Homo sapiens: one gene and its partners. The protein of the gene in region 1 purifies or fractionates together with the protein of each later gene. This does not show direct contact. Each region holds a gene or a part of one and is shown on either strand. Other genes may lie near its edges. The genes, in order: TRIM25, IGF2BP1, TARS1, WARS1, ELAVL1, IGF2BP3 and YBX1.

Region 1 (3,647 bases):
TGTGGCTGGATCCCTAGAAGCCATCTGAGAACACCTGCCTGCTTTGCCATCCCAGATCAGGGACAGGGTGCCAAGGACAGCAAACAGGGCTCAGCACAGCCTGGGCATGCAAATGGCTTGTCTGTGGTTCACGGAACAAGCTCAGGAAGCTGGCAGGGAGGAAGGGGATATAGTGAGGCAGAAAGGAGAAGAACAAAGTTCAAATACACAAGGGAAGGGAGTAGGTGGGGCTCACCTAATGTCAACAGCCCTTGGGTGCAGGAACTCTGTGGAGAATGTGACCCCAAGAAGGGAGTGGTGGCAATGCCAACATGCCTTGGTTAAGAGAAAAGGCCCTTTGGCTATAATGCTGTGTCCTAGTTCCCAAGGCAGCCCCCAACTAGATTTCCCTCAAAATGCAGGTGTGTGTATGGGTATGTAGAGAAGGTAGAGTAATCACATGCACCATATTTTAAATGTCGACCTATTTTTACCTCAAAAATTTCATCTGGTCCTCATGGAACCTTTAATGCAGGCAAAGTTAAGACTCAGAAAGGAGATGTGCCTGGAATAAGGACATACAGCTCAATAAGGCAGCAGAGGCATCAGCAAAAGGACCCATTTTGTGTGTGCATTTATTCCAAATTGCCCCCTTTAAAATAGGCTTTTTAAATGTATCATTTCCCCTTCACTCTTTGATTTGCTTTTTTAGAGTCTTCCTGTATTTTATGTATTGGAATTGATCTACAATAAAATACAGGTAGACTGCAACTCCAAGGTCAATAACGGTTGGAGATCCTTCGGTTATTCATGATGCTATGGCATTTCAAGACTGCCTGGGAACTGATGAGAAAACAGATGTAAAACCTATGAGCAAGTCCAAACTTAGCCCATGGGTCACCCCAGCAGACCACAAATGACTTAAAAACCACACATGCGTGCACACACACACACACACGCACTCCCAGCTTGCCTTTAGTAAGGAGTCACAAATTACCATCCTGAACTTTTTATTGGAAAAAAGTGTCCCCGGACAGTTGAAGAGTCATCTCTGAATAGAAAGACAAGTCTATCACTGACATACTGAGTATTTTTATGGTTACAGTGACAGTGAGGAAGAAAAAACTACAAGAGGGGTTGGAGATGAGCGAGAACAAAACTCAGGACAGTAAACAAAGGGGACTTCACACAGGTGAGAAGAAACTCAGGAGGCTCCCATGAAGAGTAGTGTGTTTTGTTCCAACAGGCTGGTCGAGAAGGGCTTACTCAAGGTGTGCAGATCCCACCGCCTCTGTTCTGACACCACCTGGTGTACCGCACCACAATTCTAACAACGACCAGCAGAGTTAGATCAGATGCCACCAGCGAAGGGACATAGTCCCCAACAGGGCTGCCCTCACCTCAGACACCAGCCCCATGTGGGGATCCCAGGCCATCAGCGCTTGTGACCAACTGCCTACAATCCCAGGAGGGTACCATGATCTTCCTCAGGTTCAATGATTCACTAAAAATCACAGAACTCAGGACTATACTTATGATTAGTTTTATTATAAAGGATACAAATCAGCTCCACAAGCCAAGGAAGACACAGGGAAAGGTCTGGAAGGGTCTTGAGCACAGTGCTCCCATGCCCCCTCTTCGTGGAATTAGGGCACACTGCCCTGCCGGCATAGCCACAGCTTCACCACCCAGGAAGCTATGCTGAGCTTTAGTGTCCAGAGTTTTTATTAGGGTTTCATGATGTACTGATTAAAGCACTGGCCAGATGATTAAACTCAGCCTCCAGTCCCCCGCCCCATAGGTCAGGCTGACTCAAAGCCTCAAACCTCTAATCACATGGTCAGTCTGTCTGGTGACCAGCCCCAGCTCTGAGTCATCCCACCTTTTAGCATAAGCTCAGGTGTGATCCCATGGCCTCACAAATAACAAAGACACTCCTATTACCCTGGAAATGTCAAGGACTGAAAGTCTCCCTCCCAGGAAGCAGGGACAAAGGCCAGTTCAATTCTTTAGACAACCTCCAATCCACACCTCCTGGAACTCCTACCCCAATTGAAACAAGGATAAAATCCACTGAACATGGAGGGCCCATTGCTGGCCTGAACTATTTTTGTTTCTTTTTTTTTTTTAAAGCTTTTTATTATAGACATTTTCAAACATATACAACAGTAAAATGAATAATATAATGAACCCTCACACCTCCATCCCTAGTAACTGATTATCCGTGTGTGGCTTACTCTTTGATCGATACTCTCCTGCTTTCCCCTAGCCCCCACAGTTAGACTGTCCCGCAGCAAAGCCCAGACAGACATCCTATCGGTCTGAGAATTCCTTATCAAAAGCTTCCCGAAGAGGAACTCTATATAGGGCAGGACTAAGTGTGCTGGCTATAGGTCTGCAGAAATCTCAACCCTTGGGAGCCCTTGGGTGGGGCCTGGGCAGGTCCCTGGGCAGTAGCCGTCTGTAGTGGGCGGCTCATCTGCTGACAACAGTATGACGAACAAATAGCATTTTGTACCCGCACTACAATGCAGGAGAACGCCAAACACCGCTTTATTGCATTCAAACCTTCTAAGGCACGTCAGCCAGCCCTGGCCTTGTCTACAGCCATGATTATCTCCTTAAAGAGTTAACTCTAAAAAAATATTAAGCTCAAGAAATAACAGCTCAAATACTCCTAACTAATTAAAATCAATAGTGAGAGGCAGAATACGGTAAAAGATAACATATTAGTATTATTGATCACAGATCAATTTCAGAGTACTTAAAACAGGAATAATCAGCTACCACATCTTGAAAAATACAAAGACTTGATCCTAACCTTTTATTTATCATGCCACACGGACTGAGACAGTCCCCAGTACCTGGGTCTAGGAGAGTTATTTTATGTTTGTGTTTCTGGGAATTTCCGATACTTCCCAGTGTATCAGAGTGTTCCCCTCACACATGCTAGCAGGCATCTCCCCACTAATGGAATAGCAAGAGTGGTGAACAGAGCGATCCTCTACTTTCTCATCATATTCTGCAAAATGAGAAGTCAGATGGATACAAAGGTTCCTCCAACTCTAGGACTCCAGGGTTGTGTGGCGGCCCTGCAAGGCTAGGTTATGTAAGGTCTCACCATTGCAAACAGAATGGTTCAAGACAGCAAGGATGCACTCCTCAATTTACAACTCCAAAGCACCTTGCACAGAGCTTGGCTTTGGTTACCTACTTGACTCTCTTTTAAACAGAGGGTCTTATGCTTCCCTATCCTGAGCTGCACATTTGCCAGGGAAGTGGCCTCACTGTTGCCCTCATTTCTGCAGAAGAGAGCCAGAGCAGGAGCCATGGATTTATCTCTGGCATTCTACTCCTCCAAGCCCAGCTGTTTCCCAAGTATTAATTGGTTTCAGACAAGGCTTTCGTTTCAGAAAATCAATGAAGATGCTTTTGATCATCTTCAAAAGCAGAGAAGAATCACCAAAGAACTTTTCTTCCAAGTAGTAAAGGAATAAAACTTCTAAGGACCACATATCACCTATTGCAGGGATGTCTTTCCTACAAAGATTATTGCTCTCCCGAGGAACTGAAAATCCTTGTTAGGAGATGACACCGATCAGGTATGTACCTGCATGTCAGGTGTGTAGCTGTCAGGAATATCAAGTGTTCTGAGCCTGCCTAGAGTG
Region 2 (3,500 bases), 7.8 Mb from region 1:
AAGAGGAGGTAATTGTTAATCAGTGGTTCATATATCTGTGACAAAAGAGAAAAGTGGGAAAAAGGAAGCTCCAGCCCATATTTTCTGGCCCACAGGCCCTCCCCATCCTAGGCGGGCTAACCATCTAAGGCAGGTGAAGGGCAAGGCTCAGGTGGGCAGCTTGTCAGCATTCCTTCTGCTTAGCTATCATACTGGAGACCCTGGGTGGAGATTATGAGTTATGAGTAATTGAATAAACACTTCCCAAGGGAAAAAATAGTTCCCAGAGGAATCTAATTCACAAGCTACAAACCAGACCTATGGAATCTGGACGTGGCACTGACCAGCATTTCAAGGCCCTGAATGGCAACTAATCAAGTCACACAGAGGGCAGGCCTGTCTGACTCTCCAGTGGCCCAGAGAGCTGTCCCAGTCCTCTATCCTCACATATGTTAGGTTAAGCTAGTTGATGGTTCATTTTTTGGCTGTCTGATCAGAAGTTCAAGAACCTTAGGATTTAGTGGGGACATAAAAGATGAGAATTTGGCATTAAAGGCCTTCCTTAGAAATGACAGCAGAGTGCAAATAAGATGCCCTCAGACTTCTTTCCTTCCCATCTTCTTCTGTGGACCTTAAAAAGGGAAGACGAAGTCAACAGAAATCCAGTTTGATGTCAATTTGAAAATAGCTCTGCAGCCCTTTATCCTGCATGGAAGGCTTAAAGATGTGATGAGGACTTGACAGCTAACGGGAAACTGACCCAGCCTTTTTCCTACCTCAGGGGAAATACCCAACCTCAATTCCTCCATGTTCAGCTTGGAAAACAATAAAGACCAAAACCTTGAATTGGGCCTCTGGCGGTCCAGTGATGATAACCATACGAACTTTGGAGTCAGGTGTTTCGGGTGGTGCAATCTAAAAAGCAAAAAGCTAGTCAATGAGGGACCCTCTATGGGAAGACCCCCACCATGTCCACTTCATCCAGTTCCCCTTCTACCACCCTTACTCCCAACTACCCATTCTGAAGACTTAGGGGAGGAAGAACAAAGACCCTGAAGCCCACATCATTACGCCTTCACACCAGAATTATTAGGAGGGCAGAGGTGGTCAGTTAGAAGGATTGGCTTCAATGACACTTTCTAAGTAGGGCCTCCTGCCCCCTCCACCTACCAATCTCCCAGAGAGGTTTCAGTGGAGTCTTGCCAACAGGCAAGGACACAAATGAAATGACCAACGGATAGAGGGCAGTGACTGCACCTCCACTGGAGAACAATCAAGGTTTTTGCTCAAAGCTTTTAAGACAACTAAAGCAACCGGATTTAGGTTTGTGAAACTCTAACAGCATCCTTGTTTCACTATGACAGATTCTCCCTTCTCTCTCCCCTGGACCTTGGCCAGGGAAGGTGACAGACAACTAACACTTACTTGGTGTTAGTATGTGAGCGAAGGGCTTTGGCTGCGTAGCCTCATAATATTGTACTGACGAGGAAAGTGAGGCTCAGATCATATAGTGTATTGGGGGAAGGGGTGATGAGATGGATCTTGGATTTGAACCCATCAGTTTGTGTTAGAACCTAAGTTCTCTTTCTATGTTATAACCCTGCCCCTGCCCAGCCTGAAAACCCAGAAGCACTGAAGCCATCCCATGGGGACCAAGCAAGATCAAAAACAAAGAGGACTTCGATTCCATGGGGGAAAGGTCCCTCATATGACACACAGAATTCTCAAATGAGTAGGGGGAATATGGGAGAAAGTGCAGAGTGATAAAAGCAGAGACCCCTCCCTTTCCAGAAACAGGAAGACCCACAGAGCAGATCACCTTGATGGAGGCGCTGGCAAACCGGGAGAGCTGTTTGATGTGCTGCCCCTTCTTGCCGATGATGGCGCCCACTGCCTGGGCGGGGATAAACACCTGCACCATCTCCTGCTCGGGAGCCTGCTGCCAGGATAGGAGGCGTTGTTACCAGGGGGCCCAAGTAGCATGGCCCAGAAACCCTCCACTCCCCTGCCTTGCATCCTCAAGGAGGAAGGAGTACAGGCACCAAACCGCCACCCTGGGCTGCCAAGGGATGCTGTGAGCTCTTTAGCTCTTCCTATGCCCAGTAGGGCTAAAGGGAAGAGGCCAGGAGAGAGTAAGGGAACAGTGCTGTCTATGCCCCGGGAGCATTCTAGGCAGACATTTGGGAGCCTCAGAGCCAGTGGCTAGGAGCACTGGAGAGGAGGGATGCCTCTGAGACCTTCCTTCCCTCTCCCTGCAAACTTGCCAAGCATCCAACTCCCAGAGCATGCTGAGTCCCCCTTAAGGGAGGCCACATATGGGCCCAGGGATCCCGTGTAATAAGATCTTCCACCTACCATAAAGGAGCTATAGGGAGCAGCCCCAGTAACGCTGCTGGGAGGCGGCGGGACTGCGCTGGATGAAGCTGGGAAAAGACCTACAGCAGCCAGGTTCAGGCCAGGGATCAGGTGAGACTGCAGCTGGGGAAGAAAGATGAGGAGGAAGAGTCAGCACACCCTGACAGGGGCTTGTGTGTGACCCCCGCTGTATAAAAGGCGAGTAGCCCCAGAGGCAAGTGGGCCAAAAACATGAATTACATACTTTTCCACAAAAGCCTATTCTGTGCTTTTCATACACTCTCACCTACACACTTCGGGTGTGGAATTTTAAGTGATATGATGTTCTCACTGGACTAACGGCTAGCAATTGCAACCAGAAATGCCAAACAGTTGTACACCCTCAGGAGTCCTTCCTCTCTGGCTGTTCAGACTGCTGGAGACAGACGATAGACCCATGACACTATACTATAACCCCCTATATGAGAAAAAGGCGTGGAGACAGAGCTCCATTGGACTTCTAGGACTCTGATTCTAAACATTTTTGGTCCTGTACCCCAACCCCAAGTCTCCTTTAAAAATCAGATGAGTTGTGTGCAGTGGCTCATGCTTATAATCCTAGTACTTTGGGAGGCCAAGGTAGGAGAATCGCTTGAGCCCAGGAGTTCTAGACCAACCTGGGTGACACAGCAAGACCCTGTTTCCAAAAAATAAAATTTTAAAAAATTAGCTGGGCATGGTGGTGTACACCTGTAGTCTCCTAGGTACTTGGGAGGCTGAAGCAGGAGTATTCCTTGAGCCCAGGGGGTCAAGGCTGCAGTAAGCTATGATTGCGCCATTGTGCTCCAACCTGGGCAACATACCAAGACCCTGTCTCAAAAAAATAAAATAAAAATCAGATGAAAACGATGGACCCCCTCATTTCAATAAAGTGCACACAAACACAAATTGTACACATACTTGGAATCACAGGACTCAAAGCCCAAGATTGGACCCCTACTCTAGGAACCAGGTGAAGAATCCTTGCTAATTAAATACTATTTAAATACTATTTCTGATAGTCGAAGTCCAAAAGCATCAACTAAAGCTCCAAGGCCACACGGCACAGGGCACATGTCCATCACCCTGCACCCCACAAGCTGCTGTTGCTAAGACTCAGGAAAGGATAAGCAGAGGGTACTACCCAG
Region 3 (4,506 bases), on another chromosome or scaffold:
CCTGGGTAAAAGAAAAGCAAAAGAATGTTTATGTACGTCACGTATACGTGTGTGTATATATACATAAATTTCAGTGTTCTTGAGCTCAGAATATGGTCATGATGTCCCATATTTCAATCAGTGCCACTCCTGAATCAAAGAAACCATGTCAGTGTTTCTGATGTTATAGAATTGCAGCTGATTTACAATTTGGCAGACGTGTAACACATGCCCTGCCTGTTATATTCCTCAATCCAGTCAAGTTTCCCCAACAGTGGCAGGGAATAAGGGTCCCTTCAGTTCTTTAACTATCCACTGCAGTACCTCTCATGGTTCTTAAATTCCTTAAAGCTCCAAGATCTGGATCTTTTTTCATTTTATTTATGTATGTATTTATTTTCTTAGTAAGAGTATCAGGAAGGAGACTGGGAAAAAGACACTGATAATGAAATAGATGATGGTAAAGTTGGCTGACTTTGGGTCATGGTGAAAGAAACACACCCTCCTACCTCCTTGCCAACATCCGCCTCCCCAAGTGCCCAAAAGCCCTCAGGGAAGGGCCCATCAATCATTGCTGGCTGCCTCATAGCTGGAATGTCAGGTAGTCAGGGGTGCAAGGCAGTGGCTGCTACCTCCAGCTCAAGCTTCATAACCTAATAGCCAAGGACCCCTGGCACAGAGTGCCTATTTTAAGGGGGAATGTTTTATCTAGCCTAACTTCCAGTTTAGAGGACATTCAGCAGTAACAGAGATAATGGGTAGAGGAAATGATAGCACAGGATCCATGTGCGACATGCTGCTAAACCTTGGGCAACAAGTAGGTTAATCTTTGTGGGACTCTGTTTCCACATTTTAAATGAGTCAGTGAAACTAGAGGGTTTCCATAGTTCTCCCAGCTCTATGAGAAGCTGTTATACTTCTTTTACAGAAAACCGTAGATCATCAGTGTTTGCTCTCAATAAAAGTAGTTCAAATGCATTTTTGTGCGGTACTGAGCATACTCCAGGCAGATAATGTGGACAATCAGTAAGTGTTTATAGTTTGTACAGGACATAGCACCAGTTACTAAAAAGCCACAACATCTCTTCAAAACAAAATTCCTAGTACTTCATGCAGCTGAATTTCAAACTTCAAATGAAGTTGAAGAAAACTCAGTCAAGACACATCATTGTTCTTGAACATACCCTGCCAATTTTCCTATGATCTCGGTTTTTAGCTTCCTCTTGGAACTTCTCCCACTCTTTCAACATTTTAGGATCTGGGAATGAAATGCCATAAATTCTCTGGAGAGTCTCCATATCTGCTTTGCCTTCCCAGTACGTGGAGGAATTCTGAAAACAAGGATTAACCATGAAACAACATTCAAATTTGTAAACATCTCACTTATTTTAACTCCCAATTGCTTTGAGGCCTTGTTAGAGTAGTTACTCATTCTGCAGCACAAAGTTGGCTGTTTTCTATCCTCAAAAATGCCCCTCCCTCAATCTGCAGGTGGGTGCAGTGGCTCATGCCTGTAATCCCAGCACTCTGTGAAGCCGAGGCAAGAGGATTGCTTGAGCCTGGGAGTTCGAGACCAGCCTGGGAAACACAGGGAGACCCCATTCTTTATTTAAAAAAAAGAAAATTACCCAGGCATGGTGGTGTGCGCTTATGGTCGCAGCTACTCAGGAGGCTAAGGCAGGAGGACTGCTTGAGCCTGGAGTGCAGTGGCACGATCTCCATTCACTGCAACCTCATTTCCCAGGCTCAAGTGGTCCTCCACTCTGTCTTTTTGGGGCAACAGAGTGAGACCCATTCTACACCCCAATACCCCCAAAACTGCCCACCCCTCAATACTCAACCACAATTCCACAAACATTACTTTGCCTGCAAAGGCATTTCTCACAAAATGAGCAAAAATAGAAATGAGCCAATAAAAAAAAAATCTTGAAATGACTCAATTATTCTCTTGATTTAAAGTGCATTTTAAAAACCTCCATAAAATGTTTATGAACTAGTATAAAACTGGGTTCTGTTAAAAACAACAACTTGGGAAATTATTAATTTAGACATATAAAGGGCAAAAGCACATACTCCCAGTGAGTCTCAAAGCTTTTATAGAGCCAGGATGGCCCATGCTGTATGATTTTGTAAAATCTCCATCCCCTGTGATTGCTCTGGCAATGACAGCAAGTCAGTCACCCCTTGAGGGATTTCAATTATAAAATCCTGATGGCATACAGCTCCCAGTTAATAGAGAGCATGAGAAAATACCATCCTTTCATGTGCAACAGAAAATGGTAAAGAGAAATCAGTGAAAGTTTAAACATATATCTATTCTAGACAGATACATTCACAGTCTTTAAAGTTACATTACTTACTTTGTGTATTTTTAAAGCCTTAATTTTGCCCGTGTGTCTAACATGAGGACCCCGGCAGAGATCTATCAAAGGGCCACATCTAAAGATAAAATGAAAGGAATTTTAACAAAGACAAAATGACATACATACCAGATACATTTAATGACATCTAATATTCTTACCTATAGACTGTGGTAGTTGGAGTATTCACCTTTTCATTCAATATCCGGCATTTGAACTTGTTGTACTGAAAACAGGAAAAATTATTATTTTAAAAAACTGTCCTTTAATTTTTACTTCTAAGTACTATAGCTAAAACGTAGCACTGTATGAATATAAATGTTGATACTTCATGTTTTAAAAACATGTTGAAGGAATGGTTTGCTAGGAAAAAAATGAAATTAAAAAAATAATAAAAACACTTAATTTTTGCTAAAGAACCAATTAGACTTCAGCTTAGTACACGGAACGCCAGTGGTGTCACTTCAACTAACATGAATAAATGATATTAACAGTGGGGGCCACGCACTATGGTTCAATTTACCTTAAACATTGCCAGTAAAGTTTCTTTCTTAACTTCCAGTCTTTCAAAAGCTTGTTTTTCTTTAATGATTTTCTTACACAAAGCCTCCAGAGAAGAGAAATCATTGCTAGACACACCCCTGAAGGAGAAGAAAGTATAATCTTTTCATTCCATTCGAATCACACCATGGCTTCGAAAAATGTTCATTTGGAAATAGTATTTGGAATACTTCAAGGGTTTTAATATTAAAAAATTAGACTATTGCATCGTATCTTAGAATTCTAAACAAAACATTTTTCATAAGTAATTTTTACATTTTATATTTTCAGTAGCTTCTACCTTGGTCATCCATGGAGACCTTTCTCACTAGTGACCCCTTCCCGCAACTCTATCACCAGGTTTTAAAGGAGAGGGGAGGACCAGTCTCCCTGAATTTCCCAAAATACCTTAGGACTCTACCTCCATCAATCTAGAACAGAGGTCTCATCAAATCCTCTATTACTTCAGGTAAATTGCAACACTTCAAGTACTGATAATGGGCATACCTGATGAAGAAGCAGTGAGATCTATATCATTCCTCCCTTACTGAGAACTCTTAAGAATAACTTATGGATCCATAGTCATTGACTTCAGTTTTCTTTATCTAGTTGATGGCTTACCCTTCTTCGAGGTACATGTCATAATAGAATCCATTTTCTATTGGCGGACCGTAGCATAAACATCCACCATAGACTCTTTCCATGGCTTCACCCATTATGTGAGCACTAGAGTGCCAATACACCTGAAAATTTAAAGAAAAATGGCATGGTCTGAGTCTTGGCATACAAGTTGCCAATTAATGTGGTTGTCTGAAAGAGACAGATGATAATATTTACTACAAGTAAACCCAATATATAAAATCCTAAATTTCTAAATCTATAAACTACTGTTTCTATCCATAGCCAAAGTAATTCAAAAGGCTTCCAATTACTAGTGTATTTTTATTTTGGAAATCATCTGGTTTAGCTGTTTTCAAACAAATTAAACTAAACTTGGCATCACTAATTAAATGACATAGACTTTGTTCTCTGAAAACAACTGCTACTCACAATGTGACTAACTCATTGATTGCAATGGCCCAGGTTCTTTTGAGTCAATGTGCCCACAGCACCATGTCTCAGACACTGTGATCTGGCCTTTAGCTGGCTATGGAACATCACTTAGAAATTACATGTTGTTACTGGCCCAAAACAAAGGTGGTACAACCCGACCCCACAACACAATGACAAAACACGAGGACAAACATCTGTACACTGAAATCAAATGGCAGTACTTGGTTTTAAAGTAATCACTGGGATGAGTCAGAATACACCCAAAGCAATGTTTTCAAGATTTAGTATTAAGGTACCAAAGTGACATTAAAAAATTCTCGTAAGAAACTTGAGGGCTCCAAAATACATTTGAAAACCACTAATCCACATACATAAGTGAACAATCATCACTAAAACAAAATACTTTGTCTCCCCTTATATGATACACAGCCATGGAGAATTAAAAAGAAAATCTTGTCATCACATGCAGGTTGACTTTTATAGTGTTATCCAGCAGATTTGCATCTTAAGATGAGAAAAAAATACAGAAATTATCCAATAAAGGCAGTGCTTTGAAGTAAGGTTCAAATTTATT
Region 4 (4,506 bases), on another chromosome or scaffold:
AGCCAAAAAAGTGCCAACTCTTGACATCTTGGTTGCTCAGCAAATGAACTAGCATGATCTTGTCAGTTCTAAACATGGTTTATAAGCAACATTCTCAATTCACTAAGAGAGTAAGAAAAGCCATAAGATCCAATACTTACTTTGTGAAAATAAATGGAATGAGGTGACCTACATGCATTGCTTCAGAAGAGGGGCCCCGGCCCGTGTACAGATAAAATGGCTTCTTATTTTCATAGGCATCAAGAACCTGATTCATATCTCTAAAGGAAAAAGGAGAAGAGGAAGAGTGTGATTTTCTGAGAAAAATATCAAGGCACTAATGCACTTTTGGAAATGGAAAATATAGACAGAGACGAAACAACATGGATAATAACTAGAATTTGTTACCTTTGGTGCTTATGATATAAATATAGACAGGAAACTTCTACTGAAATGGTTTCTCCTGTGAGTGTTTTAAAAGACAAGATGTGTAGGTTTGGAATAATGTGTTTAAAAGATGGATCCAGCTATGCAGTTACTGGGACTCCTGGAATCCCTCCAAACATCAGTGCCGACATACTGTGAGCTTGGTACACTTCCCTGGGGATACCAGGCCAACACCATATGATCCTTGCTCAGAATCACCCAGCCCCGAGGACTCTCAGACCAATACCAGGCAAACTGCATGGGACCAGACAGTCCTGGCTTAGCAGGGAAAGTAAGAATTGTCCTCTGGGAGTTCAGAGGTCAAGTGCCCAGTTGGAGATCTATCTGGGCCCCTCAGCCAGCTTGGGACTAGGTATCTTCATCTGCAAGTCACTCAAGAGTCATCCCCCTCCCTACCAGGCTGCTTCCAATCACAGCTGCCTGCGCCCCACCTCCAGAGACTGATTCAATGGATCTGAGGTGCTCTCTGGGAATGTGTTTGTTTGTTTGTTTATTTATTTATTTTTGAGACAGAGTCTCACTCTGTCACCCAGGCTGGAGTGCAGTGGTGTGATCTCTGCTCACTGCAACCTCTGCCTCCTGGGTTCAAGCGATTCTCCTGCCTCAGCCTCCCGAGTAGCTGGGCATAGTAGGCACCTGCCACTATGCCCAGCTAATTTTTTGTGTTTTTAATAGAGACGGGGTTTCACCATGTTGGCCAGGCTGGTCTCAAACTCCTGACCTCGTGATTTGCCTGCCTCGGCCTCCCAAAGTGCTGGGATTACAGGTGTGAGCCACTGCGCCTGGCCGGGAATTTGTATTTTTAAAAAGCTCCGTGAGGAGTTCCAATGTTCAGCAGGGTGGGAAACCAACGCTCGAGGATGAATGTCCTTTGTTTCTGGGTAAAGTGTCCCCAAATACAAGAGGAATAACTACCTTTTCCAGAGGTCTGGATAGGAGAATCTAGAGAACAGTATTCTGAAAGTGACTTCTCCTTATATTCCCCAAGCCAAGGGTCAACATTGCTTATCTCTGGACAGATACAATTGTGGGTGTTCTGGTTTTTGGGCTTAGTTTTCATTTTTTTTCCCCATGAAATGCTCACATACTGCTTTTGAAATAAGGAAAGAAAATAACCCATAATTTTGGAAGGAAAGAATCCTTCTTTGGTTCTCACAACTAACCATATGGGCTTACAGAAGAGAAAAAAATGTAACTGTGCCACGAGCTGCTTTTCTTGTGTTTATGTGGAGCATCTGAGAACTCACTGTGTGCTCGGTCCTGGGGTGAGGTGCTCCTGACAAGCGTGCAGAAATTTACTGGGTTCCAATTTTGAGATCATGTTTTATGAGGATGGATTCCAGCAGAGACTCATTCAGCTACTAAGGGAACCCAGTTACCTGCCCACCACTTGAAGCTTGACTGTGCATAGTAGATCTCATTTAATCCCCAATTTTACAGATGACAAAATTAGACAGAGGGGCAGTTTGAAATTTGAGAATGGGCAAATGACTCAGGTCCTATGCTTTCCTAAGCCAAGAGGCTACAGTATTACTATACTGCAGTTAATAAATAAGTCACAAAGGCAGTGAGAAGAACCATGCCATGCTAAGATAAAAAATGCTGACTACAAACCAACAAAATTAGTAAACTTTGAACCAAAGTGACTGGGTGTGTGTGTGTGTGTGGGGGGGGGTGTGGAATAAAAGAGAAGACTCAAACGGCCAAAATCAGGAATATAAGAAGGGGTATTACTACTGACCTTATAGGAATAAAAAGGATTACTACATAAGGGAATACTATGAATAACTGTATACCAATACATTAGATAACCTTGATGAAATAGACAAATTCCTAGAAACAAACTACTGAAACGAACCCAAGAAGAAATAGAAAATATACACAGATCTGGAACAAACAAAAAGACTGAATTAGTAATCAAAAAACTTCCTACAAAGAAAAGCCCAAAACCCCATTTTCACTGGTAAAGTCTATCAAATGTTCAAAAAAGAATTAATACCAATCCTTCCCAAGCTTTTCCAAAAAAAATTGAATAAGAAATACTTCCCAACTCATTCTATGAGGCCAGTATTACCCTGATACCAAACCAAAGACATTAAAAGAAAACTACAGACCAATATCCCTTATGAACACAGATGTAAAAATCCTCAGCAACTCACAAACCAAATCCAGCAACATATAAAAAAGATTATACACTATGATTGAAAATAAATTGATTTTCAACACCATGATTAAGTGGAATTTGTTCCAGGAACGCAAGGTTGATTAAACACGCAAAAACCTATCAGTGTGATACACCATACTAATAAAATAGAGGCCAAAACCCACATGATCATCTCAATAAACACAGAAAATGCATTTGATAAAATCTAACATCTTTTCATAATAAAAACACATGTTGAAGGGTATATAGAAAGCCCACAGCTAACATTATACTAAATGGTGTATATTCAGTCTTTACTGAAAGTTTTTCCCCTAAGATCAGGAATAAGACAAGGATGCTCACTTTCACCACTACTATTCAACATCCTATTGAAAGTTGAAGTCAGAGAAATTAGGAACGAAAAAAAAATCCAAATTGGAAAGGAGGAAGTAAAACTGTCTCTAATCATAGGAGATACAATCCTATATGTAGGAAATCCTATCGAATCTGCAAAAAGAAAAAAAGCATTAGCGCTAATAAACTCAGCAAAATTTCAGGATATAAGATTAATACACAAACATCAATTGTATTTTTTTTTTTTTTGAGAGGGAGTTTTGCTCTTTTTGCCCGGGCTGGAGTGCAATGGCACGATCTCGGGTCACTGCCACCTCTGCCTCCTGGGTTCAAGTGATTCTCCTGCCTTAGCCTCTTGGGTAGCTGGGATTACAGGCGCCCACCACCATGCCTGCCCAATTTTGTATTTTTAGTAGAGATGTGGTTTCACCATGTTGGTCAGGCTGGTCTCGAACTCCTGACCTCAAGTGATCCACCCGCCTCGGCCTCCCAAAGTGTTGGGATTACAGGTGTAAGCCACCGTGCCCGGCCATCAGTTGTATTTCTATATAGTAGCAATGAACAATCAAAATGAGATTAAGAAAATGCCATTTAGAATAGCATTAAAAAGATAAAATTCTAATGAATAAATCTAAGCAAAGAAGTGCAAAACCTATACACTGAAAATTACAAAACATCAATGAAAGAAATCAAAGAAGTGAAAAGACATCCCATGTTCATGGATTAGATGAATTAATATTTTAAGATGGCAATACTCCACAAATGAATCTACAGATTCAGTGCAATCCCTATCAAAATCCTAGCTGCTGCTTTTGCAGAAATGGAAAAGCTGAAATTCATATGGAAATGCAAGGGGCCCAGAATACCTAAACAATCTTGAAAAAGAACCATGTTTGAGTACTCACATTTTCTTATTTTTTTTTGAGACGGAGTCTCACTGCCACCCAGGCTGGAGTGCAGTGGCGCGATCTCGGCTCACTGCAAGCTCCGCCTCCCGGGTTCATGCCATTCTCCTGCCTCAGCCTCCCGAGTAGCTGGGACTACAGGCGCCCATCACCACACCTGGCTAATTTTTTGTATTTTTAGTAGAGATGGGGTTTCACCGTGTTAGCCAGGATGGTCTCAATCTCCTGACCTCGTGATCCGCCTGCCTTGGCCTCCCAAAGTGCTGGGATTACAGACATGAGCCACTGCGCCCAGCCAAGAATAGTCTTTTCAAAAAACAGTGCTGGGACAATTGGATACCCACAAGCAAAAGAATGAAGTTGGAGCTGTACCTCACAAATATACAAAAATTAACTCAAAAAGGATCAGAAACTGAAATGTAAGAGCTAAAACCACAAAACTCTGAGAAGAAACCATAGGTGTAAATCTTCACAACCTTCGATTAGTCAGTGGTTTCTCAGATATGACACCAAAAACACAATCAATCAAAGATAAAATAAACTGGACTTCATCAAAATTAAAAACTTTCATACTTCAAAGGACTATCAGTAGAGTGAAGAGACAACCTATATAATGGGAGCAAATATTTGCAAGTAATATTTGAATAAGAAACTAGTATCCAGAATATAGAAAGAACT
Region 5 (4,506 bases), on another chromosome or scaffold:
TTTTCAAGTCCGATGCCGGACTGGGTAAGTCATGTCTTTTCAATGCCTGGTGGACAAATGGCCTTCATTTGGAAGCAAACCGGGTCAAGGAATTGCCACTAACCGTCTTCGGGTGCTTCTATTTCTCTGATCCAGCAGGGACCCCTGGGCTGCCGGCTCCAAAGGGCCGGTCTTGGCTCCCAACAGCAGCACGGTTCAGTCCCTGGAGGCTGGGTCTCCAGGACTAAGGCCAAGCGCAGACTCTCAGAGGTTAAGGCAGCTGCCCTTGGCCAGGAAAAGGCTCACCTTCCAGGAGAAGGTGGCGGAACCCACCCAGCACCACCTGCGGGCGGGCCCCCGAGGAAGCCCATGAATTTCAGGATATTCACGCAGGATGGTGGCCGGGGAGGGGACTCAGCACCCGGGAGGGAATCAGTCACAGAGCTGCGACTAGAGGCACAGCCAGCACAGAAAACTGCGGCTTGGCAAATTACACTGAAAACGAAATAATGGCAGAGCCAAGGGGGAACAAGGGAGAATTCATCAGGAAGCAGGTTCACAAATTCGGAGCTGCCTGGGGTCTAACTACCAGAGGAAGTTACACACGGGTCAAAAGGGAATTCAATCAAAGCCTCTTTGGTATTTCCCAAACCAGATTTTTGATAAATGAACATTATCTACTCTGAACGCTTTTTCATCGAAATTCCCAAATAAAAGCAGAGCACTCATTTTTGCTAAATAGAAATACAACTGATCTATGTAAAATTTTTTAAGAAATGGTTTCTTTTGGGTTGAGCCTTTTTTAAGAAAAGGGATCTCCCCTTTGCAAACAGGCCTTGATAAGATGTAATGAACTTTGAGGACACAGGGCCAGCAACTAGAACCTTGATGGAACAGAGATTGCTTTTCAGGAGTGACAGTTGTTAAGCTAAATCCTTCCACAAGCTTGCAAGCTAAGACTCCCAAATAAAGGCTTTGGAATTTTTTAGCTAGAAGGCTGTTCAAACAGCGGAGACCACATACAATGAGAATGTTCCTGAACTGAGAAACTTCAGGGAACTTTCAAAGGCTCATATACTTCACAGTTTCTTCTCACCTGTCCCAGCATCAGAATAATTGATAGGATTCAGATAAAAGGGGGCGAGGAAAGAAGCTGAGGTGCTACAAGCCCGTCATCATTTTCACAGTTGAAGCTTAAGACAGAGTTCTCTGTTGAATGCTAGCTATGGGCATGTGTGGGAGTGAGACTCCAGGGGGAGTTTCAGAAGCGGGAATCCCGCCTTCCATCAGAAGGGTGTTGGCTCCCACCTTCCATCAGAAGGGTGTTGGCTCCCACCTTCCATCAGAAGGGTGTTGGCTCCCACCTTCCATCAGAAGGGTGTTGGCTCCCACCTTCCATCAGAAGGGTGTTGGCTCCCACCTTCCATCAGAAGATGCTGGCCCAGGGAAACCTGAAAGGCTTCTTTTTCCAGGAAAGCATTCTGGTCCCAGGATGCAGACTGCTCTCGGGCAACAGAGCAGGGACCCTCTTTTGTGTCGAATCCGGGCAATGGGCCTCGGTTTTGGCTTTTCCTGAGGATCTGGGATTCTGTGGGAGAAAGGAGGTCCTCTCTGGCACCAGGCCGACTTTTATGAGACACAGCCTGGGTACGGATGGCAACATCATCAATTTGCAAGGATCGCGCACACAGCCCCTCAGTAAAAGATCAGGGAAAGGGGAGGGGATGGGCATCCTCAATTGTCCAGGGGCCTCTCGAGACGCTGACCTGCTCTGGGGACGGTGGTGCCTGCCTATTGCTCAATTTCACACTTCAATAAATAAATACATAAATAGGTATAAATAAACAGATAAATACAGCCATCATCTCATGAGAGCAATAACTAAAAAACAGCCTACGGTCACGTTTTAGTCTCACGTCAAGGTTAAAAACTGCTGGTACTAAGTTATCCTGTTTGTGATTCTCTCTGTAAACTAGTTATTTATAAACGCCAGATCCCAGTCCTGAGGAGTTTTGGGTGATCTGGCCCTGCCTATTTCACAGGCTTTCTCTTTCACCCTTCCTCCGGGCTCCTGGTTTAAAAGCCACCAGCCTGTAACTGCACATTCTTGCGTCACAGATTCAGAAATGCTTTTGCTTGAGGCAAGGATTGGTTTCTTAAGATCTTACGACTCCTCCCTGAATGCTGGGCCACCTGCACCTTCCCTAGCCAAAAAGAAAGAAAAGGTAAAATAAAAAACAAAACAAAATTCGAGCAAAACAAAATCAAATTTAATGGTCTTAAATGCAAAAGTAAAAACAAACAAAAAACACAAAAAAGCAAAAGAAAATTAACAGAACAGAACAACCCAAAATGTCAAGGCAGTTATGAAGAGAACTTTGAGGGTTAATCTTTAAAACTACAAATCAAAGGTTTTGGTTAATAGATAACTGGCAAGAAGTAAGTACTTTTCTGCTGAGTGTTCATACAAAAGCAAAATTCCAAAACAAAATCCGACTAAAATAGAAAAAGGTCTAAGCGCTCACGAGAAGGGATGCGAGAAATACAATGCTCAAATGTTTCTGTGTTATTAAAATACAGAGCCATTTTACGCCTCCAAGCTATGTTAAATGCTCTGGAAAACGGGAGAAATTATCGTGAACAACAGTATCCAATGTGTGGGGCGCTGTGCATGCAATGTGTGGACAGAAACTCGGGATGTCAGAGTAGCAACACATCTTCAGGCGTGCCTGGAGCTTAGATCTGACTCTGGAATATACTGGAGTTTCCCTGAAACTCTTTGGTCCATTCCCATTGGTGCCTGGGCTTACGAAACACGTTTGTGTCCTTCTCTGGAGGGCCCGCCCAGCATGCAGCCCGTGGCCCCCGGCCCCAGTGGTGGCCCACGCTGGACGGGCCCGCCGCCATTCCCAGGACCACTCGGCAGAGCCCGGGACTGAGTGAGCAGGAGGTGGCAACGGGACCTGCCTGGAAAAGGAACTTCCTGTCAACCAAAGCATACATCGCTTACAATGTTGAAGCGGTTGAGAAAACGCACACTCAGCATCTGTCTAACATCTTTAGATTAAAAACTAAAACTAAAAGGTGATTTTTTTGCTACCCAGTCTGTGGAGACATTGAATGAAACGCGTGTTAGACAGTCTTAGAGGTTAAAGCATGCTTCAGGTTCACCACCATCCAGAGGGACTGGTTAGTCAATGCAGTTCTACTTAGATTTCTGTTTAATATATATCTTAAAGGAAATAACTTACGAAACTTAAGATTGGTCTAACATTGTGGGATTTCAAACATTTGAACATGTCGGTTGCATCCCAGAGTATAAAAACCTTCTCACTTCTCATTCAGACAAAGACAAACACTTGTGAAAATTGGCGCAAAATGAGTTGTACACTAACAAGAAAAGTTTCAACTCCTTCACTCTTAATTATCTATTCCGTACAAAAAAAAGCATGAGCGAGTTATTTGTGGGACTTGTTGGTTTTGAAGGAAACCTGTAAGATTTTGTCCCCCAGGCGGTAGCCGTTCAGGCTGGCTATGGCCATCGCGGCTTCTTCATAGTTTGTCATGGTCACAAAGCCAAACCCTTTGCACTTGTTGGTGTTGAAGTCGCGGATCACTTTCACATTGGTGACGGCACCAAACGGCCCAAACATCTGCCAGAGGATCCCCTCGTCGGCATCCTGCCCCAGGTTGTAGATGAAAATGCACCAGCCGGAGGAGGCGTTTCCTGGCACGTTGACGCCAGAGAGCCCGCTCATGTGATCGACGCCCATGGGGGAGAACCTGGCAGACAGAGAGCAAGCGTCAGGCCACGGTCAGCGCAGGCGGCCTGGGGATGGGGCAAGGCCTGGACGCATGCTGACCATGGCCGCTGGGCCCCATCCCGCTCTGCGCAGCCACGAGGTGCTCACGGTTGAGACACCTGCATGGGTCAAAACCCTGGGAGGAATTAAATACAGTAGTGGAGGGGCGGGACCCTGTTCTGTAGGGAGCTGACTCTGAGGGGCTGGTTGGTGCCCTCCACTCCTCCCACTGTGTATGTCGGGGTTTCTGTTTAGGGGTTCCTGCGGTTCCCCACATTTTAGATGATGGGCGCTTCTCCTGGTCCTCCGTTGAAGGTAGAAATGCTCTGCAGGCCTCTGACAGCCTCAGTTCTCCCTGGAGGAAACTCTCCTCGTACTGTGGGGTACGTGCAGGGGCTGAACTCCTTTTTCCAAATTTTGCACCTTCCCCTTATCATGACCCGCCCCCAAGCGTTGACAGCCCAGTGGTCTCTGGTTAGAGCACGCCTTTGCCAGGGCCACTTGTAGGGCACAAGAATTCCTTCCCAAGCACCAGGCAACCAACCCTCTGTGGCTAGAGCTCAACATCCCCTGAGGGTCAGGGGCCAAACCACTGAGGACTGAGAACTCAAGGGACAGGGAAGGGCCCTGGGACACCAGCAACGGCAGGCTCACCAAACTTGACCACACACGTGGGGCTCTTTCCACAGTGATACTTTTATTTACATAAAAAATAAGCCTTTCT
Region 6 (4,506 bases), on another chromosome or scaffold:
TTAGATTGAAGTAGGCTGGAGGAATATCAATCCATCTTGACTAAAATTTAAAATGGTTCACCGATGCCATTTAGATAACAAAAACGTTAGATAGTGGCAGAAATATTCAGAAACTCCCTGCGGGACCTAGGTCCTGCTGAACCTTCAAAAGCCACTGAATATCATACCTGAAAACACCTAAGCCTATGCTGGTCAACAGCCTTGAGAGGAAAAGCAATGGGAGACATGTGCCATGGAAAACAGAACTAAGTACATAAATTGAGAGGATATGGATTATTGGTACAAATCTCCTTCATCTTCCTGAAGTTCTCATTTTCACTACTAGTATAATGTCACAGGCTAACCTTGAGCCAGATGAATGGGAAGTTATTCCTTAACATTTTCCTCAAACTTGTTAAAAATGTAAACATTTGTATAATGAAGACTATTTCTCTTAGACTACTTTAAAAAGAAGTCTATAATTCTAATTCAGTCTCAACCTGGCCCTGCCAAGCATTTTGTATTACAGTTTTAAAAATAGCTGCTTCTAGAATAACTTTTGAGATTTTTTTCTTTTAAAACTCTCCCCTTTCTGGGGGTAAATTTAAGACAAAGTAGTATTACTTATTGAATTTACCACTTTGTGGGGTTTTTTTCCCCCTTTCTTTACAACCAAACAGAAGTTTCCTGCTTCCTTACTACCTCCTTTGAAAACTCCTTGTACACAAACACCGTGCAGTCTTTCCCCTACCACTCTTCCTCAGTTCATCAATCTTTTCCCACCTTTTTGAGTACTCTGAGTGAAACTAAGAATGGCCACCCTCAGAAAAACCTTTCCACGTAATTTCAGAGCATCCACAGATTCTAAGTGTGGTAGCCTGCCTCCAAGGTGATTCCTGTCACCCAGTTATCTGTAGTCCCACACATACATACCAAATAGGGCTGACTTGTGTAAACAACATTAGAAAAATGATAGAGTATAACTTCTGAGGCTATGTCATAAAAGACATTGCAGTTTCCATCTTGACAGCTGCCATGTCTTGAGAACACTCAAGCAGCTCTGTGGAGAAGCCCATGTGGGAGGAACTGAGGCCTTCTGCCAACAGCCAGCATCAACTTGTCAGCAGCATTGTGAGACCCCAAGCCAGAACCACCCAGCTAAGCTGCTCCTGCATTCCTAACCCACAAAAACTAGCTGAGCAATTAATGTTCACATTGTGTTAAGCTGTCAAATGTTGGGATAATGCGTTACACGACAATGGATAATAAACTGGGTTATATATTCCAACTTTGGGAATAAATGTCATAAAACATAGTTAAGACTGCTTTAGAAAACATGAATGTAAAGCATTTGGTTCCTCCTGCCAGAAGCAGATAATGCTTTCAATACGGGTCAGAAACCTAACAGGCAGCAAGCTGTATTTGAGAAACCATGTGTAAGTACGGCAGCACAGGCTAGCTGAAGCAGCTGTAAAGTGGGAAGCTAAGCCCAATACACAACATGCAGCTTACAGTGTTGGAAAGTTTTCTTATTCAAAAGCAAAGGAGCACTCACGGAGATATCGTGATTTTAGTGTCTGTGTCTTGCTCAATTTTTTTAAGATTTCTTCCTTCTTTACCAATAAGACGTCCAACAAAGTTATTATGAGCTAAAATCTTCAAGGGGATCTCTTCTGTGCTGTAAATAGAAAAGTGGCCATAAAATTAGAATAAGTAAACCTATTCGTGGGTAAAAAGACAATATTCACTCATTAAACATTTACTTCCTACCTACCATCTGGGAAGCACTGTGTTAGGTACAGCTTAAAACTTGCTGACAATTGGCCAGCATTCTAGCAATGCATGAATAGAAGGGGAGAAAAAATACAGAAGTTAACTTCTAAAATAGTTCTTATTTTATTCACTTCAGGAAATATCTTCAGTGATGGAGTCTCTTACTCAAAACCATATTCCTAAACCCCTACTACCAGAACACAACGTACAAATAAAAAACAGTACCATCCAGTACAAATATACACCTGGAGATATGTGCATAATTTATAGAAGGAAACAGAAGAAACAACAGTGGTTACACTTTGGGGGAAGGGCATAAGAACAGGAAGGGGAGCTTTCACTTTTCATTTTGTAGCTTTCTGAATTTCCCAGTCATATATATATAAAACTGTTTAAAATGTCATTGTGGTTAATAGATGGTGGGCTTTTCCTTTTTCTTTCTTTTTTTTTTTTTGAGACAGAGTCTCCCTCTGGCGCCAGGCAGGCGTGCAGTGGCGCGATCTCGGCTCACTGCAACCTCCGCCTCCCGGGTTCAAGCCATTCTCCTGCCTCAGCCTCCCAAGTGGCTGGGACTACAGGCACATGCCACCACGCTCATCTAATTCTTGTATTTTCAGTAGAGACGGGGTTTCACCATGTTGGCCAGGATGGTCTTGATCTCTTGACCTCATGATCCACCCGCCTCGGCCTCCCAAAGTGCTGGGATTACAGGCATGAGTCGCCACACCAGGCCTATTTTTCTCTATACTAAAATAATTCTTCTTTAAAATTTTTACTTTAATAATTACATTCTTATGATATGGCACCCACATATAATATTACTAAAACATATTTAAAGTTCTCTACAAATTAAGGTTGGTAATGAGGTCCCCACACTAACTCCAGTGCCTTACTCTCGATTCTACTTTCAGTGCAGCGCTGTTCTGTACGCTAAACGTGGCACAGAACCCAACCTTCACTCAAAGTTCCTGTGGAAGAAATAGAGTTCCCGCCTGCATTACCCAGATAAATCTCCAGTTTGCCTTAGAAGAGACTTAGGCACTTCCCCACCTCCACACTCCCTGCTGCTCCAAGGTGGGGCCAGGCAGTGGACAAGAACAGAGCTCCAATGAGCTCCGAGTAAAGGATGAGTCAAGATTTGGGGCTCCTGTTTTGGGTTAATCCAGGATACCTCCTGGTCCTAGGTTCCCCAAGTTGCCTTCTTCTATAGCTGCATTTCTCTTCCCCGTTATCACCACTCGCCTATGTTCAAATGTGAATGAAAATATTTAAATATTAAAAGACATACACTTCACAACCAGATCAACAGTGCCAACCACTGTAGCTCATCAGGATATCATTTCCCTCTGTTTGTTGGCAATTCCCAAGAATTGTGTCAGAGATGTCAAAAATACAAGAGCACAAATATCAACCTCTTTCACAGGACAATCTTCTTTACTCACAATTTTATATCTTGAGCTTCCTTATGCATAATCTCCAGAATAGACTTACAAGCCGCAGAGGTGCCTTCAGGAGTAGAGAGGATAGTAATCGACTTCTCAGCAGCCCCCGCATTTTCTTTACGGTGGACATCGATTCTGATAGTGGGCGCAAGCAGAGAGGAAAACGAGAGCAGTAAGCGTGTATTCACAGTGGAGTCTGTAATTACCAAATGCAAAGTCATAGGGCTTCAGGGCAAAGCAGATGACTCACTTCCCTCAAGAGCATAAACTTTCAATAAGCTGTCAACATTAATGCCTTAAGAGGCAAATTTTAATTCTAGGAACATTCCCCTTTCTCTTTCCTCAATCCAACCAAGCGGGGACATCTTTTCATTCTACCCAAGCTGTTTGTGCTTACAGCTTCCTTTCAGATGCCACAGAACAAATGTCTCATGACAAAGAGCCTGGATTCAATCTGCTCTAAAACAAATAGGAACTGGAGGGCATGCCAAGAGAGGAGTTGGAATCCCATAAGCCAAGTTGAACTGCTTATTCTGCACAGTATATCATTCTTCATTCATTGGATGAGCAGATTTCACCAATCTGCTTCCCCTTTGCAAGGTTCTTCCCACATTTTGCCTCCTTGATAGAGGAAAGTCTGCAACGAACAGTGATAGGAATGGAACCTGGACAGATGGCAATTCTACTTCAAGAAAAGCAAGTGGCCAATAAACTCAAAATGATGTTTAATTTCACTAGTAATTATATGTCTGCCAGCTAAAAGAATGTCATTTTCTTCTAGACTTGCAAAAATTGAGATAGAAAAAATTAAATATGGGCAAGATGATGGGTAACAAGGCACACTCAACACTTTTGGTAGGAGCAAACTGGTCAGCAAAATGCTGAGCACCTTGTGACTCAAGAACTGTATTTCTTGTAACATCTACTCCTGGTAACATCTACAGATATAGTCTCATACATGGGTCAAGAGTGATGTTTCTTACCCTTGGCACTACTGACTTTTTGGGCCAGATTCTTTGTTGTGGATGGGGTGTCTTGTGCATTGTAGGAAATTTACTAACTTCCCTGGCCTGTACCTACTAGATGCTAGTAGCATGCCTCTCTCTCAACTCTAACAGCTAAAAATGTCTCCAGACATTGCCAAATGTCTACGGGGGTTGGGGCAGAGAGATGATCATTTGTAGTTGAGAACCACTGGCATGGGAAAGTTCCGTTTCTAACAGATAGAAAATTAGAATTATCTAATTGCGGGAAGAGATGGTTAAATAACAGTATATTCATATCATACAGATGTTTTTGAAAATGTGGTAAA
Region 7 (4,506 bases), on another chromosome or scaffold:
ATTATACCACTCAACTTTCCAATTATGTACCTTCCTATTTTTCTTAGGTAATTCCTTATTGTTTTCTCATTCTTAATCTAGGACCTGTAATACAGCGATTCTATCACCTATTCATCTCACTCCAAGGTTGGGCACAGTGGCTCACACCTGTAATCCTAGCACTTGGGGAGGATCACTTGAGGGCAGGAGTTCAAGACTGCTTGAGTAACACAGTGCAACTCCATTTCTACAAAACAATTTAAAAAAAAAAAAACAACCCTCATTTTCCCCTTTTCTCCCCTCTTTATCCAAGTATAAAGTCTACCACTAATCATATGACCAATCCCTACCCCAGTGTCTTCATCTGGATAAACCAGATCTGGATAAATCAAACCAGATCTGGATAAACCAAATCTGGATAAATCCAACTCTCTGCCCAACCTGAGCCTGATGCCCAAATGGCTAGAAACACAGAGTCAAGCTGGGTGAACTCACTTCTAATTTATGATCGTTATCCTATTACTTATAAATTTACCATCTCTATTTTCTGTTCTAGAGGGTTCTTTGCCCCAAACTTTTCAAACTTCCTCTTTACTTTCGTCTCAATTTAGCAACCAAAGGCTTCCATGTCTTCCCATTAACACATGCGTGCCCATGTATTCTTGTTTCTTACACAGGAAAACGGCAGGTTCCTAACAAAAGGTCAACATTTTCACCTGTGGGCAAAACCCTACCCTCTCTGAGAAAGAAAACAGTTCCAGCAGTCACTTTCCTGCCATCAACTGTTATCCTGGATTGCATTTCAGCCTATAAATGTTATTTCTCAACAAAAAACCTCCCTTTTTGACCCCCCATTTTCCCCTTACTACTATTAGTCTCATTTTCAGCAACACTTGTACTATACTCTGTCTTAAGATTTCCCTTTCAGTTTGCTCTTGAACCCACACCAGTCAGAATTTCACACCATTCCATGCATTAGGGGCAGCATGTTTCATTTACTCTCATTTGAACAAAAGATTCCTGCACAGTTTGGAAAGTCTAGCATTCATTGATAACTTCCAAGCAATTTTATGTTACTTCTGCAACTATCTGGCAGGACTGAGCATTCTAAACATTGAAACACGTAGACATTAAGTCTAACTTAAACCAAAAGGCAAAAACCTCTGCACTGGAGGGGTAACAATGGACAAAGATACCTTTCTAAGAGACAAATCAACCGCAAGCTTGTTTGTCAATATAAAGACAAACAATTTACTCAACGGTGAACTGAAGCACTGAATACAAACACAAAATTATGCTATTTTTAAGGACATCAATGAAACTAGGCAAAACATTTAAGCTCTTCAGTGTAACAAAAGGTAAACCAAAGATTCTGCTGCTGGAACCCATGGACTTAACAGATGGACTGCCATGAGAGGCTATTTTAGACCTACTCTGAAAAATAAAAACCCATCTATCTTCAACATCCAGCATCTGGCTAACACAATCTCCTGGTAGAAAACTGAATCAGAGATCTTCAATTGTGGTAGTGATCAGTTAGGACCTCAGCTCTTTTAACTGAAAACTCAGGACAAGACATATTAATACAAAAAATATGATGACATCAGCTGCTCTTGCAAAACTCTCAATGTACATGTGCTGATAAATACATGTAATACAACCTCGACTAGATTCCCTAGTTCCTAAAACTTCACTAAGTGCTCCAACTTTGGTAAAATTTAAAAACCTATATACAGAAACCCCCTCTTATAGACTCACAGTATATTTTGGATATGTTGGATACTTCTAGAATAATAAACTTGACACTTAAAAATTTGGGGATTTAAAAGTTGCGATTTAAGTGATCAGTTAAGATGCGTTATTACTGTATTGGTTTGATTCTTCAGAGGTACCTGTCAGCTTTTGGGGATCACCTATGAAAACTCAATGCTTTGATATCAAACCCTTAGAGAAACAACTATTACACCATCCTATCCTACCACCGTGGGACTGGGAACACTGCCTCAAAGTATACTACGGCATGGACTAAAATATGCTTGGTTCATGGAATTTTTCCTCGATTACTCTAATAATGACATCTATTAATAAGATTTCTAATACCCACTCAAGTAGATAGTTGTCTAACGACAGACTGGATTTCCCCCCGCAGAATGTAAATTCTTGGTGGAGCAATTTCATTTTGCAACTTTGAGCTGACAACTCCCAACTCCAAAAAAAAGGGGGTACATATCTAAACTGAGAAGTGTTTAGTGGAAGATAATGTATGCCATTTCAAGTGATAACACTGTTGATTCTTCACTAATGCCATGGTACAATTCAGATACTCCTAATGCTTTCCTTTCTCCCTACCAAGGAGGCAGGTTTAAAAGGTGTGGTTTAAAATATTATCTTACCTGTTCAAGGACAGAAAATTTGAAATTCCAAACCCTCATCATTTTCTAAAAAAATTTATGTATAAAGCAGACCTCATCTATACAAGCTGTTTTTAATAGGTTCACCTCTTAGGCATCTGATGAAAGAAAACGTGAAGTGTTAACAGAAAAATGAGTCTGCAGGAGAGGCATGATATTGCTGAGTCCTAACACGGGTTTGAGGAAATTTTAATAGAAACATGTTTACGTGGACCATACCTGCGGAATCGTGGTCTATATCCCCGATACATATTCTGCCTCACTGGTCTACCTTGTTCTCCTGCACCCTGGTTGTCAGCACCCTGAAAAAGACAATGGAAATTAAGCCTACTGGGTCAGTAATATAATAAAAAAACCCAACCAGATAAATCCAAGAGTTAAAAAACAAACAAAACAGACCATCTAGTAATTGTGACTACATTATAAATTAATCCTTTTGGTTCTTACTAGGAATCCAAGTTGCTTTCCATATAATTAACAGCTCTAAACAGTCCTACCAGAACTTATCACATTGCTGTTGTTGATGGTGAAACTTACCTCCATCACTTCTCCCTGCACAGGAGGGTTGGAATACTGTGGTCGACGCCCATAGGGTCTCCGCATGTAGTAAGGTGGGAACCTTCGCCTGCGGTAGGGCCGGCGTTGTTGGGCCTGGCCTTCGGGAGCACTCTCCGATCCCTCGTTCTTTTCCCCACTCTCACTATTCTGGTAATTTTGCTGGTAATTGCGTGGAGGACCCCTACGACGTGGATAGCGTCTATAATGGTTACGGTCTGCTGCATATTTACTGCCTTGAACTGGAACACCACCAGGACCTGTAACATTTGCTGCCTCCGCACCCTACAAAAGCCATTACATATTGATAGTGACAAAGGAAATCAGAACACTTTCAACACTTTCAAAAGGAAATCAGAACATTTTCAAACAAAGCAAAAAACAACAAAGTTAAGGAAAAAAAAGGGGGGGGGGGCGCAACTGCGTGACCAGGGGTGCACAGAAATGACTAAATATCAGTTCCTCACTGTTCTGAAGAGATTGCCCTCTAACTGCAGCCAGAACATTAGGCTTGATGCACCTGTGTTCATGAGGTCACCTGAACACATCCATCCACATTAGAGCCACCATCCTAATGGATGAGACCTCCAAAATATTTCCATACTGAAGTCAAACCTTTACACAAAAAGCATCCTCACCTTTTCTCCTTCAACAACATCAAACTCCACAGTCTCTCCATCTCCTACACTGCGAAGGTACTTCCTGGGGTTATTCTTCTTTATGGCAGTCTAGTAATATCACATTCCAAAAATAGATTAACAGGGGAGAATAATGTGCTTTTTCATTTAAAATGTACCAGAGTCAATATTATTTTAGCTTGGATATACACTTAAGATTTGCTTTAAATAAGACCAAACCATCAATAAATTTAGGAAAGCGGGGACCACACTATCCCCAACTTCAACAAAAACACTCCAATCATACAAGGCCCCAGCATTGTACCACTATTTACAAAACTAAAACAAGTAATTTAACACTCAAGACAGACACATCATTTTAAAAACTGCTTTTTGCAAAAGCATTATATATAACTTTTAACAAATGAGGATATCCATCTATCCCCTGAGGACTGCACTTAATAGGAGAAGGTGGCCCCACACTGCGTCAGTTTAGATGACAGGCGAGTTTGGTTTTGCATGCTTCAAAGCTGACCAAACCAACTTTGCCCCTGTGTTACCGTATCAAACTCAATTACAAATGTCAACCAAAATCCCTTCCAATCTGATAATACATCAGTGGAAATGCAATTCATGTGTATTAACTATGTCATTCTTTATATGATCTGACTGCATGGAATTGTTAGTTATCACCTCCCCAGAATTCAATAAATCTTGTATTAGAGACTTGTTGCTTCTACTTTCTCCAGACTGTTAAGAGAAGGGAGGAAGAGTAACATCTCACGTTTCTATGAAATTTTTTTGCAACATTCTTTCACTTACTATCTATTCAATCTCATTATGAGACAGGACATGTGAAAGTATTGTTAATCCCATTACACAGATAATGTAACAGGCTTTAAAGTTAGGTGACTTGCCCAAGGTCACACAGTTAGTAAGGAGAC

Evidence for each region.
Region 2: the proteins of TRIM25 (region 1) and IGF2BP1 purify together in Homo sapiens (affinity purification with western blotting; 2 studies listed by BioGRID, with this or other methods). This does not show direct contact.
Region 3: the proteins of TRIM25 (region 1) and TARS1 purify together in Homo sapiens (affinity purification with mass spectrometry, with the first as the bait; one large-scale study listed by BioGRID). This does not show direct contact.
Region 4: the proteins of TRIM25 (region 1) and WARS1 fractionate together in Homo sapiens (co-fractionation; 2 studies listed by BioGRID). This does not show direct contact.
Region 5: the proteins of TRIM25 (region 1) and ELAVL1 purify together in Homo sapiens (affinity purification with mass spectrometry; 2 studies listed by BioGRID, with this or other methods). This does not show direct contact.
Region 6: the proteins of TRIM25 (region 1) and IGF2BP3 purify together in Homo sapiens (affinity purification with western blotting; 3 studies listed by BioGRID, with this or other methods). This does not show direct contact.
Region 7: the proteins of TRIM25 (region 1) and YBX1 purify together in Homo sapiens (affinity purification with western blotting; 4 studies listed by BioGRID and IntAct, with this or other methods). This does not show direct contact.

Annotation. Positions count from the first base shown.
Region 1 is NC_000017.11:56,886,403-56,890,049, forward strand, and holds the end of TRIM25 (E3 ubiquitin/ISG15 ligase TRIM25), read right to left. Parts: 3' UTR 1,507-3,647; downstream 1-1,506.
Region 2 is NC_000017.11:49,042,385-49,045,884, reverse strand, and holds part of IGF2BP1 (insulin-like growth factor 2 mRNA-binding protein 1), read right to left. Parts: intron 2,458-3,500; coding exon 2,335-2,457; intron 1,919-2,334; coding exon 1,799-1,918; intron 895-1,798; coding exon 820-894; intron 1-819. UniProt on the Homo sapiens protein: RNA-binding factor that recruits target transcripts to cytoplasmic protein-RNA complexes (mRNPs). This transcript 'caging' into mRNPs allows mRNA transport and transient storage.
Region 3 is NC_000005.10:33,454,061-33,458,566, reverse strand, and holds part of TARS1 (threonine--tRNA ligase 1, cytoplasmic), read right to left. Parts: intron 3,623-4,506; coding exon 3,501-3,622; intron 2,981-3,500; coding exon 2,863-2,980; intron 2,566-2,862; coding exon 2,501-2,565; intron 2,419-2,500; coding exon 2,340-2,418; intron 1,311-2,339; coding exon 1,164-1,310; intron 2-1,163; coding exon 1-1. UniProt on the Homo sapiens protein: Catalyzes the attachment of threonine to tRNA(Thr) in a two-step reaction: threonine is first activated by ATP to form Thr-AMP and then transferred to the acceptor end of tRNA(Thr).
Region 4 is NC_000014.9:100,354,307-100,358,812, forward strand, and holds part of WARS1 (tryptophan--tRNA ligase, cytoplasmic), read right to left. Parts: intron 261-4,506; coding exon 141-260; intron 1-140. UniProt on the Homo sapiens protein: Catalyzes the attachment of tryptophan to tRNA(Trp) in a two-step reaction: tryptophan is first activated by ATP to form Trp-AMP and then transferred to the acceptor end of the tRNA(Trp).
Region 5 is NC_000019.10:7,960,046-7,964,551, forward strand, and holds part of ELAVL1 (ELAV-like protein 1), read right to left. Parts: intron 3,763-4,506; coding exon 3,438-3,762; 3' UTR 1-3,437. UniProt on the Homo sapiens protein: RNA-binding protein that binds to the 3'-UTR region of mRNAs and increases their stability.
Region 6 is NC_000007.14:23,344,406-23,348,911, forward strand, and holds part of IGF2BP3 (insulin-like growth factor 2 mRNA-binding protein 3), read right to left. Parts: intron 3,330-4,506; coding exon 3,195-3,329; intron 1,658-3,194; coding exon 1,535-1,657; intron 1-1,534. UniProt on the Homo sapiens protein: RNA-binding factor that may recruit target transcripts to cytoplasmic protein-RNA complexes (mRNPs). This transcript 'caging' into mRNPs allows mRNA transport and transient storage.
Region 7 is NC_000001.11:42,695,366-42,699,871, reverse strand, and holds part of YBX1 (Y-box-binding protein 1), read right to left. Parts: intron 3,674-4,506; coding exon 3,584-3,673; intron 3,231-3,583; coding exon 2,928-3,230; intron 2,693-2,927; coding exon 2,610-2,692; intron 1-2,609. UniProt on the Homo sapiens protein: DNA- and RNA-binding protein involved in various processes, such as translational repression, RNA stabilization, mRNA splicing, DNA repair and transcription regulation.